2 separate regions of the Homo sapiens genome follow, and region 1 is linked to region 2. Evidence: fine-mapped expression QTL. A gene starts in region 2. The other region holds a variant in brackets. All regions are shown on one strand. Distances are from middle to middle.

What was found. PIP is the estimated chance that this variant, and not a neighbour inherited with it, causes the effect.
Region 1: its variant is the best candidate, but not a certain one, in a credible set for the expression of TMEM167B in whole blood (GTEx, PIP 0.54).

What each region holds. Positions count from the first base shown.
Region 1 is chr1:109,118,244-109,123,617 of GRCh38, forward strand. All of the region lies in intron 1 of ELAPOR1 (endosome-lysosome associated apoptosis and autophagy regulator 1), which reads left to right. Among named protein-coding and RNA genes, the nearest start is that of ELAPOR1, 6.8 kb to the left of the region's middle. The variant C/T (reference allele first, on the strand shown) is at 2,814.
Region 2 is chr1:109,087,982-109,093,355 of GRCh38, forward strand. It overlaps TMEM167B (transmembrane protein 167B), which reads left to right and starts at 2,783. Exons shown (of 3, transcript NM_020141.4): 1 at 2,783-2,901; 2 at 4,909-5,040. The coding sequence starts at 2,892. It also overlaps the pseudogene NDUFB3P1. RefSeq lists an enhancer at 2,417-2,616.

The DNA of each region.
Region 1 (5,374 bases), 30 kb after region 2:
TTCTAGATAGAGGGAGGAGCTTGACGAAAGGTCCACATGTGGAAAATGCAAATGATCCTGGGACTTGCAAGCAGACCAGCTGGCTGAAATGTGCAATAGTGTGAGATACAAAGTTGATAAGGTTGAAAAATTCTAAACTAAGTGGAGAATCCCTGAAGGATTTCTGGCAGAGATAGCAGCCTAAGCAGAATGGATTAGCATGAATATAAAGTAAGCATGGTTGAGGTGGGCCAACAGATGAGAGCAGAGAGATGAGGCAAGGAGACCAATACTGAAGATATTACTGAAGTCAAGGAGGAGGTTAATAAAGGGACTGCACTGGGATGGGGGCAGTGGAATACATGGAAAGGCGTCTGTGTGAAAAACATGCTGACGGTGGAGGTTAGAGGATTTGGCAACTGATTGATGGTGTAGGGTGATGGTGACGGGCGGGTCAAGGATTTTTGTAAGGATTTTGGAGTGGGAGAATGGTAGGAGTTACTATCCAAAATGCAGAAAGAACAGCTTTAGGGAGCAGAGTGTTCCCTGTTCTTAGTTCTGATGTCCCTGGGATCAGCCCCTGTAGTCAGGGGAGAAAGTCCTGAGCCTTTGGCACGCTACTTCACTTTGTGAGCACAGTGTCTAGGCTTTTCTGTTTCCTCCTGTATTTGGTTCTTCTTTTTTTTTTTTTTTGAGACGGAGTCTCGCTCTGATGCCCAGGCTGAAGCACAATGGTGTGATCTCTGCTCACTGCAACCTCCGCCTTCTGGGCTCAAGCAATTCTCCTGCCTCAGCCTCCCAAGTAGCTGGGATTACAGGTGCCCGCCACCATGCCCAGCTAATTTTGTATTTTTATTAGAGATGGGATTTCATCATGTTGGCCAGGCTGGTCTTGAACTCCTGACCTCAGGCGATCTGCCCGCCTCGGCCTCCCAAAGTGCTGGCATTACAGGAGTGAGCCACCACACCTGGCCTAATTTTTTTTTTTTTTTGAGACAAGATCTGGCTCTACTCTGAAGGCTGGAATGTGGTGGTGCCATCTCAGCTCACTGCAACCTCCCCCTCCCAGGCTCAAGCCATCCTCCCATCTCAGTTGGGATTACAGGTGTGCACCACCATGCCCTGATAATTTTTGTAGTTTTGGAGAGACAGGGTTTCTCCATGTTGCCCAGGCTGGTCTCAAACTCGTGAGCTCTAGTGATCTGCCTGCCTCGGCCTCCCAAATTGCTGGAATTACAGGTGTGAGCCACCGCACTCAGCCTGCTTTTTTTTTTTTTTTCACATGTATGTCTCTCTAAACAATCTTATTTAGATCTGTTTATTTTTGACCTTTGTAAAAATATATTGCATTGTATATAGAGTTATAACATTTGCTTTTCTAACTCAACACTAAGCTTCTAAACTCATCTACGTTATTGTATGTTACTATATTTTGTGCATTTTCGGTGTTGTAAAATACTCCTTTGGTGAATATTCCACGATTTAAAAATTAGTTTTCCTGTTAATAGACATTTGGGTTTCCATTGTTTTGCTATTTCAAACAATGCTGCTATGGACATTTTTGAACCTGTCTTCTGGTGTGCAGGTACACGTTTCTTGAAGGTATAAGCCTAGGAGTGGGGTGCTGGGTTGTGGGTTGTGTATAGATTCATCTTTACAGGAGAATGCCAAATTGTTTTCTGAAGTGAGTGAATTAATCATAATTTATTCTTCAGTGACTCCAGAGATTGGGATTCTATTAAGGACCTTAGTCACCACTATGGTCTGATGTTTGTGTCCCCCCTAAATTCATACATTGATACCTAATCCTCAATGCAATGGTATTAAGAGGTGGGGCCTTTGGGAGGTGATTATATCCTATGGGATTAGTGCACTTATAAAAGAGGCCTGAGGGGCTGGGCACCATGGCTCATGCCTGTAATCCCAGCATTTTGGGAGGCCGAGGCAGGCTGATCGCTTGAGGCCAGGAGTTCAAGACCAGCCTGGCCAACATGTTGAAACCCTGTCTCTACAAAAAATGCAAAACCTAGCTGGTGTGGTGGTGCATGCCTGTAATTCCAGCTACTTGGGAGGCTGAGACACGAGAATTGCTTGAACCCAGGAGGCAGAGGTTGCAGCAAGCCAAGATCACGCCACTGTACTCCAGCCTGCGTGACAGAGCAAGACTCTGTCTTAAAATAAAATAAAATAAAATAAAATAAAATAAATACAAGAGGCCTGTATTTTTGCCCCCTCCACTATATGAGGACACGTAGACAGCACCATCTCTGAGGAATGGGCCCTCACCGGACGCCTAATCTGCTGGTGCCTTGATCTTGGACTTCCCAGCCTCCAGAGCTGTGAGCAATCAATATCCATTGTTTATAAATTACCTAGTCTATGGTATTTTGTTATAGCAGACCAAACAGACTAGGCAGTCACTTTAGCCCCAGACATACCAAGTTAGGGCTTAACTGTGGGGACACTCTCTCTTCACAAGTAATGCTGTTTCTTCAGAGCTCTTGGGGGTCGTGTTTACCTAGACTTTTACAGCTTTCTTCAGTTTTCAGTTTTGTAATCTGATGTGTCGCAGGTGGGATGAGTTTTCTTCTATTTTGGAAACTGGACAGATGAATTCTCATTCAGATCACTCACTAAATAGAGTCCAGGTGAAAGCAACTTCTAGGGCCAGGCTTCTGGAAATTAGTAGCATCTTAAGGTGTCAAGGTAGGTAACATCTTAGGGTAAAACAGAAATGTCACTCAATAAGAGCTATCTACTGCTCTCTATTCTATCTGAGAGGAGTCTTAGCTATTGTAACGTCTTTCAGGGAAGTGCCCTGTGGGCAAAAATAA[C/T]GCTTCGTATCCAGATTTGGTACAGTTTACAAAATTTTGAAATTTTTGGTACTTTTTTGGTCCCTTTTTGCATTCTGTATTTCTTGAATTTTTTTTCAATTTTTTTTGAGATGGAGTTTCCTTCTTGTTGTCCAGGCTGGAGTCCAGTGGCGTGATCTCGGCTCACTGCAACCTCCGCCTCCCAGGTTCAAGGGATTCTCCTGCCTCAGCCTCCCAAGTAGCTGGGATTACAGGCATCTGCCATCACTCCCGGCTAATTTTTGTATTTTTAGTAGAGATGGTGTTTCACCATGTTGGCTACACTGGTCTCGAACTCTTGACCTCGGGTGATCCACCCCCCTCAGCCTCCCAAAGTGCGTGAGCCACTGTGCCTAGCTTTTGAATTATTACATTAAGAAAGTATCATTGTTATAAAAGCAATAAGGTTATTTTAAAATAGTATTCAATAGGCCAAAAGGGAATATGGAAGTAACAGCCTTGAACTCGTGGCCTCAAAGGATTCTCCTGCCTCAGTCACACTTTAGAGTTTCCCTTTACATTCAGGATGAATCCTGAAAAGAGGGGTAATGCTGCCTTAGACACTGGAGGGACTAAACTCTGACAAAAGAACATTACCAAGAACTATCTAGCCTTGTGAAATTTAGACAATTTCTGCAAATATGGATCTTTCATACTCCAGTGGCCCAATAATGGAGGTCTTCTTTGCCTGTGTATTACTTTTTTTTTTTTTTTTTTGAGACAGAGTCTCTCTCTGTCACCCAGGCTGGAGTGCAGTGGCATGATCTCAGCTCACTGCAACCTCTGCTTCCCGGGTTCAAGCAATTCTCCTGCCTCAGCCTCCTGAGTAGCTGGGATTACAGGCACCCGTCACCACGCCCGGCTCATTTTTGTATTTTGGGTAGAGACAGGGTTACATCATATTGGCTAGGCTGATCTCAAACTCCTGACCTTGTGATCCGCCCACCTTGGCCTCCCAAAGTGCTGGGATTACAGGCATGAGCCACCACAGCTGGCTCTTTTTTTTTTTTTTTGAGACAGAGTCTTGCTCTGTCACTCAGGCCAGAGTACAGCGGTGCAATCTCAGCTCACTGCAGCCTGTGCCTGTCGGGTTCAAGCGATTCCCATGCCTCATCCTCCCGAATAGCTGGGATTACAAGCGTGCACCACCACACTCTGCCATGTTGGCCAGGCTGGTTGGTGTTGAACTCCCAACCTCAAGTGATCTACCTGCCTCCGCCTCTCAAAGTGCTGGGATTACAGGCGTGAGCCACTGTGCCCAGCTTCAGATAACCTTTCCATTAAAAAAAAAAAAAAAAAAAAGGCAGGATGTAGTGGCTCGTCCCGGTAATCCCAGTACTTTGGGAGGCCATGGCCAGCAGATTGCTTGAGCCCAGGAGTTCAGGACCAGCCTGGGCAACATAGCAAGACCCCAACTTTACAAAACAGTTTTAAAAATTAGCTATGTGTGGTGGCCCACGCCTGTAGACCCAGACACTAGGGAGACTGAGGTGGGAGGTTCACTTGAACCCATGAGTTAAAGATTACAGTGAGCCGTGATCAAGCCACTACTCTCCAGCATGGGCAACACAGTGGGACTCTCTCTTTAAAAAAAAAAAGAGACTGGGTGCAGTGGCTGACACCTGTAATCCCAGCACTTTGGGAGGCCAAGGTGGGCAGATCACTTGAGCTCAGGGGTTTGAGACCAGCCTGGGCAACATGGTGAAACCCCATCTCTACTAAAAATACAAAAATTAGCTGGGCATGATGGTGTGCCCCTGTGGTCCCAGCTACTTGGGAGGCTAAGGTAGGAGGACCATTTGAACCCAGGAGGTTGAGGTTGCAGTGAGCCATGATGGCACCAGAGTAAGACCCTGTCTCACAAAAAAGGTAGGGGGATCTGTATTAGTTAGCTTTTGCTGTATAACAATCCACCCTGAGGCTTATTGTCTTAAACAGGACCCCTTGTTTAGCCCACAATCCTGTAGTTTGACTGGGCTAGGGCAGCGTGGCTGATCTATGCTGGGCTCCCTTGTGTGACTGGTCAGCTGGTAGATTGACTGCAAGCCAGATTACCTAAAATGCTTCACCCAGAGGTCTGACATTGACAGGCTGTTGGGAGCCCCTGCAAAGTCATTATGTAGGGGCATACATATGGGGGATGGGAAGAATATGTTGCCATTTTTGAAGCATACCACTAGGAAAAGCAGAGTTGATACAAATAACCAACCACTCCAATGGACCTATAGTTATAAATGTGGCTAATTACTAGGAAAGAAAAGTAAAGGATATGAGAGATTATTACAAAGATACCTACTTTACAGTATGCCACAAGATCTTTTATATACTTTCAGCATCTTTCTATAAAGACGACATATGAATATTTTTAATCACCGTATCTGTTGGTATAGATCACTGCTTTGGGAATGCAGCAAGAAAACTACAGCACCATAGTCAAATTGCATAGTCAAGGAAAAGCATACAAAGTGTTGATTTGAATGAGATGAACTTTAAATTTCTCTATTCCCTTTTGGCTTATTGAATACTATTTTAAAATAATCTTA
Region 2 (5,374 bases):
ACATAGTCTTTATAGACAAAGCTTAAAGCCCATATAGGGAACAGTGGAAAATACTATTGGAAGGCCTTGAGTAGCAGGCTAAGGACTTAGGCATTATTCAGTAGGTAGTGGTTGCTGTCAAAGGAAACACCAGTGTGGTATGGAGGAAAATTTTCTAGTCCTGATTTCAGAAGGCTGGAATTATTGTGCCAGTGTAATACTTGGCAGTCCTTACCCTAAACCTTGGTTTATTTCTAAAACAGGGGTAATCAGGCAGTTGTGAGGGTTAAATAAGATCATATGACAAGGTGTGTTTGCTTTGAAAATGTCAAAATGTTATAAAAATGTAAGTTTTCATTGTTGTGAGGACATAATTGATACTTAAAGACTACCGATATAGCAAAATTACTAAGGTGATGGCTGTAGGATTACAAGAGGGGCAATTTTTTTTCTTTTCTTTGTTTTTTTTGAGACGTAGTTTCACTGTTGCCCAGGCTAGCGTGCTATGGCAGGATCTCAGCTCACCGCAACCTCTGCCTCCCCAGTTCAAGCGATTCTCCTGCCTCAGCCTCCCAAGTAGCTGGGATTACAGGCATGTGCCACCATGCCCGGCTACTTTTGTATTTTTAGTAGAGACGGGGTTTCTCCATGTTGGTCAGGCTGGTCTCGAACTCCCGACCTCAGGTGATCCGCCCACCTCGGCCTCCCAAAGTGCTGGAATTACAGGCGTGAGCAACCGCGCCCGGCCAAAGGGGGGCAGTTATTATTATTATTATTATTATTTGAAATGGAGTCTCGCTCTGTCGCCCAGGCTGGAGGGCAGTGGTGCTGTCTCGGCTCACTGCAACCTCTCCCTCCCGGGTTCAAGCTATTCTCCTGCCTCTGCCTTCCGAGTAGCTGGGATTACAGGCGCACGCCACCATGCCAGGCTAATTTCTGTATTTCTTTTTTTCTTTTTTCTTTTTTTTTTTTTAAGTAGAGACGGGGTTTCACCATGTGGTCAGGGTGGTCTTGAACTCCTGACCTCAGGTAATCCGCCTGCCTCGGCCTCCCAAAGTGCTGGGATTACAGGCGTGAGCCGCGCCCGGCCAGCTGCTGCTGTTTTAGACAATGGTTGATGAAGGATTCGAAGGCCTAAACAATAGAGCTTTTGTTCTGTTTTGTTTTTGAGTGGTCCTGAACAGTTCTTTTGGGCAGGGGAATTTGTCTGTGTGTGAATGTGCAAACATATATATAATCTGAGTGGCTGCCTGGCCTTGTCCTAGGTTTTGTCCCGTATATACGCCGTCTTTTTTTTTTTTTCTTTCTGCATGTATGTATATTTTCTCAAGGCATCTGTCCTGCACTAGACTTTGGCTTGTCTTTCCAGGCCAGCTTCCAGAGGATGCTTTGGCAGTTTTCCCTCTGGGTAACCAAGCAGGCTGCAGCCAGCAGATGGCACTGCAGCAGAAAGGGGCAGAGTCCCTTTAGGCCCTTGACAAGCACGGCGGATTAGTAACCGTATAATTTAACCCTCCAGTTAGCCTTGGAGGACTCGGTGTCGCACTTCCGCCCGAACTCTAATAAAGCGGGCCGAGTTGTGTGCAATTAAGGATTTCAGTATGCAAATCTGAATCTGTACTTTTGTCTCCTCCACCCCACCCCCATCATTAGACTGGCAATGTCTTTTGTCACGTTGTCAAAGTGTCCTCAGAGAAGCGGTGTCTAGATATCGCCGATTTCTGGTTAAAGTGGCTGAAGTGATCCCAGCATTAATTAAATGCAGGAGAATCGAGATTCTCCTGATAGTTTAAGGAAAAGAAAAATTCACACAAGCAAACGGGCAACCCTTTGAATGTTTTCCGACGACGTGGTGCTTTAGGATCTGAAAGATGCGACTTGGTTTTTGTTGTTGTTGTTGTTGTTGTTGTTGTTTTTGAGACGGAGTTTCCGCTCTTGTTGCCCAGGCTGGAGTGCAATGGCGCGATCTCGGCTCACCGCAACCTCCGCCTCCCAGGTTCAAGCGATTCTCCTGCCTCGGCCTCCCGAGTAGCTGGGATTACATTACAGGCATGAGCCACCATGCCCGGCTAATTTTGTATTTGTAGTAGAGACGGGGTTTCTCCATGTTGGTCAGGCTGGTCTCGAACTACGATCTCAGGTGATCCGCCTGCCTCGGCCTCCTAAAGTGCTTAGATTACAGGCATGAGCCACCGCGCCCGGCTAATTTTGTATGTTTAGTAGAGACGGGGTTTCTCCTTGTTGGTCAGGCTGGTCTCGAACTCCGACCTCAGGTGATCCGCCTGGCTCGGCCTCCCAAAGTGCTGGGATTACAGGCGTGAACCACCGCGCCCGGCCGCGACTTGTTTTTGTTACAAGGTTCCTCATTTCATTTGCAACGTTCAGACGCAGTCTGACTAGATTTCCATCCGGAGTAAGGAAGAGCAGCTCAAGGGCAGTCACGGAGGCCGCAGGTGCGGCTTCTTCACCCGCGGTGCTGGAGTTCTCTCAAGTGGAAGCCCAGGACGATGAAAACCTCATAGGTAGGCTGCTGCTTACACACAGCAGCCGCCACGGCGCAAAATAAACTACAAAACTACAAGCCTTTACCTTTTCAAACACACTGACGCGGGCCAGCCCCAGCCCTACGCCCGCAGGGGCACGCAGAAAAGACTTAGTTACCACGGCCAAGTACGAAGCCTTCGAGATAGCGTTCTTCTTACCCTACGTAAACACGCAGTTTCCCGAGCTCGACAATCGGCTAGCCACTCCTGATAGCGTTCGGCGCTCGCCTCTCGGCCCTTGCTCCTGCGTACTACGGCTTCTTCCAGTCACCTCGGCCCGGATCGGGAAGTGTCAAGCGGGCGCTCCCCCATCTCCGCCGCTATTACCACTGAACCCGGACCCCCTACCCAGGTCCAGGGCCAGCCGCCATGACGAACGGTGAGAACTGATGCCCTGAGCGGAGGGTGGGAGTGAAGGACGAAGGGAAAACGTGGCGGGCGGGGCCGGGACTGACGTGGCCGTTCTCCCCGCCCCCTCCCAGCCCGGCCCCCCTTGGCCTCTCGACGCCCCTAACTTCTGTACCCCTATACTCCTCTACGGGTTCCCCCTTCCCATATTCATCTAGGACCCCCAGTGCCTCTTATGCTCACACCTCGAGTTATCTATCCCTATGCTTTGCTTTCCCTTTTCTTTTTCTTAGTTCTTTCTGGCCCTTGGAGAGGTCAGTCCCAGAGGTACTACTGCTATTTAAACCCGGGGAAGAGAGAGGCTCCTCCTCCCAGCTCCCTGCGTTCTCATGCTTTCGGACCGTAGTTTTGTTGAGAGGGCCAATAAATGACATAGAATATCAAGTCCCACACTTTTGGGGTTGCTGGTGAATGTAGACCCCACAAAAGCTTCTTCTTACGGAAAAATACCGGAAAGATTTCTGATTTTAAAGTCCTGGCGGGGTGATCCCACGTGGAGACCCTGACTAGTGTTGCAAAGGGTGGATTTAGACACTGCCTCTTCTAGATGATGAGGCAGTTTATCTGACCTAATTTTCCAGGCCTCTTCAAACACTTTATGAATTCTGAATTCCAGAGGAGGACAGGAAGGAGGGCCTTCATGATTTTTAGTGTCAACCTTACAGGAAAGGAGAAGAGAAAGCCTTTTAGGCATTACGATGATTTGAGGGGCTCCGGAAAGCATTTCTCAAAAGTACTTTGTCCATAGACCTGGCACTGAAGACTCGAATTTAACCTCCTTGTGAATTTTGGCATTGTCTGCAGAAACTTATGAGAGAAAAGGGGTAGCACGTGAAGGTATAGTTCCTCAGAAAACCTTAGTGTATGTATTAATTTGCTGGACCCTTTCTTAGTGACAGCTTAGCTGTGAGACAGTTTTACTGGAGGAAGAGAGGTAGTGTGATCTAGAACTGGCAGACACTGGTTATATATAATATTCATTTGGAGCTTCCTGGGAAGTCAGAGGTCTCAGGATACTAGGCACAGTAAGAAAAGGGAATTTACCCAGAGGAAGACAGAATCTGAACCAGGAAGTAAGACAGCAGTTTGACACGGTAGTTGCTGAATAAATTTTAGTCATTCTTCCCCCATTTTGTGGTCCAATATCTTCTTGTTTTTTGCAATTAGGTGATTCATTGTGCTTCCCTGTACAAGAAATAAGCTTGGTTTATGTATTTAAGAAACAGAGCTAAGAAGTTAAAGCTTTCTATGTTGAAGCCTTAGATACTTTTTCTTTGTTTTAGAAAAATCTGTTATTATTCTGGCAGAAATTCGGTTTGTTAAGAGTATCATCCATAAAGTGTAAGATAATGATAGGAAAATTGTAGTCATGTGGATTCTTACTCTTGCAACTTTCATTAAGCTTAATTTTTTGCCTTAACATATTCTTCACCAACAGTTGCACATCTGACAGTTTTGGCTACATATCTAGCTCTCCTTTATCATATGAGTGATTTATAACAAGAACATGTTAAATTCTCTGTGCTGAGTCTCTAAGGATTCATATGTCTCAATCTATTGCCAACACTAGTCATTCCTGGGATGCTAATTTCTGCCCAGGATTTCTACTTCTTGAAAGGTGAGGGGAAGGACCAGTGACATTTTAGTAAAGGGGATGTAAAAAAAAAAATTTTTTTTTGAGTTGGGGTCTCACTCTGTTGCTCAGGCTACAGTGCAGTGGCATGATCGTAGTTCATTGCAGCCTCGAACTCCTGGGCTCAATTGATCCCCCTTCCTCCTACAAGCAATTTTTGGGAACAGTAAAATAATCGTGTTAGTCCCAGGATCCTGGCTCCCCCTTGTCAAGTGTCAGTACTGCCTGTTGAGGTTATTATTTTGTTATTATGTCACACACTATCTTCCTTAGAGTTCTCAGGCGGGATCACAGGTCCGACGCTAGATCAGTACCTAAGGTTTTCTTTTCTTCTTTATTTAACAGTGTACTCCTTGGATGGGATTCTGGTGTTTGGTTTGCTCTTTGTTTGCACCTGTGCCTACTTCAAGAAAGTACCTCGTCTCAAAACCTGGCTGCTATCAGAGAAGAAGGGTGTTTGGGGTGTGTTTTACAAAGGTGAGGCCATGTCTGGACAGGGAGAAGAGACTGCCATCTCTGGACAGTGTGGAGCTACAAAGTAGGGAGTACAGTGAGCTGGGATTATATTTGGTTTCATTTTTAGAAAAAAATCCCTCCGATTGGGTCTGAGAGTCTGGAAAATTAATCATTCTCCAAAGTTGAGGGAAGAGGTAAAAGTTAAAATTTGCTGGGTGTGATGGCTCATGCCTATAATCTCAGCACTTTGGGGGGCCAAGGCAGGAGGATTGCTTGTGTCCAGGAGTTGTAGATCAGCCCGGGCAACACAGTGAGACCCCATTTCTACAAAATATACAAAAATTAGCCAGGTATG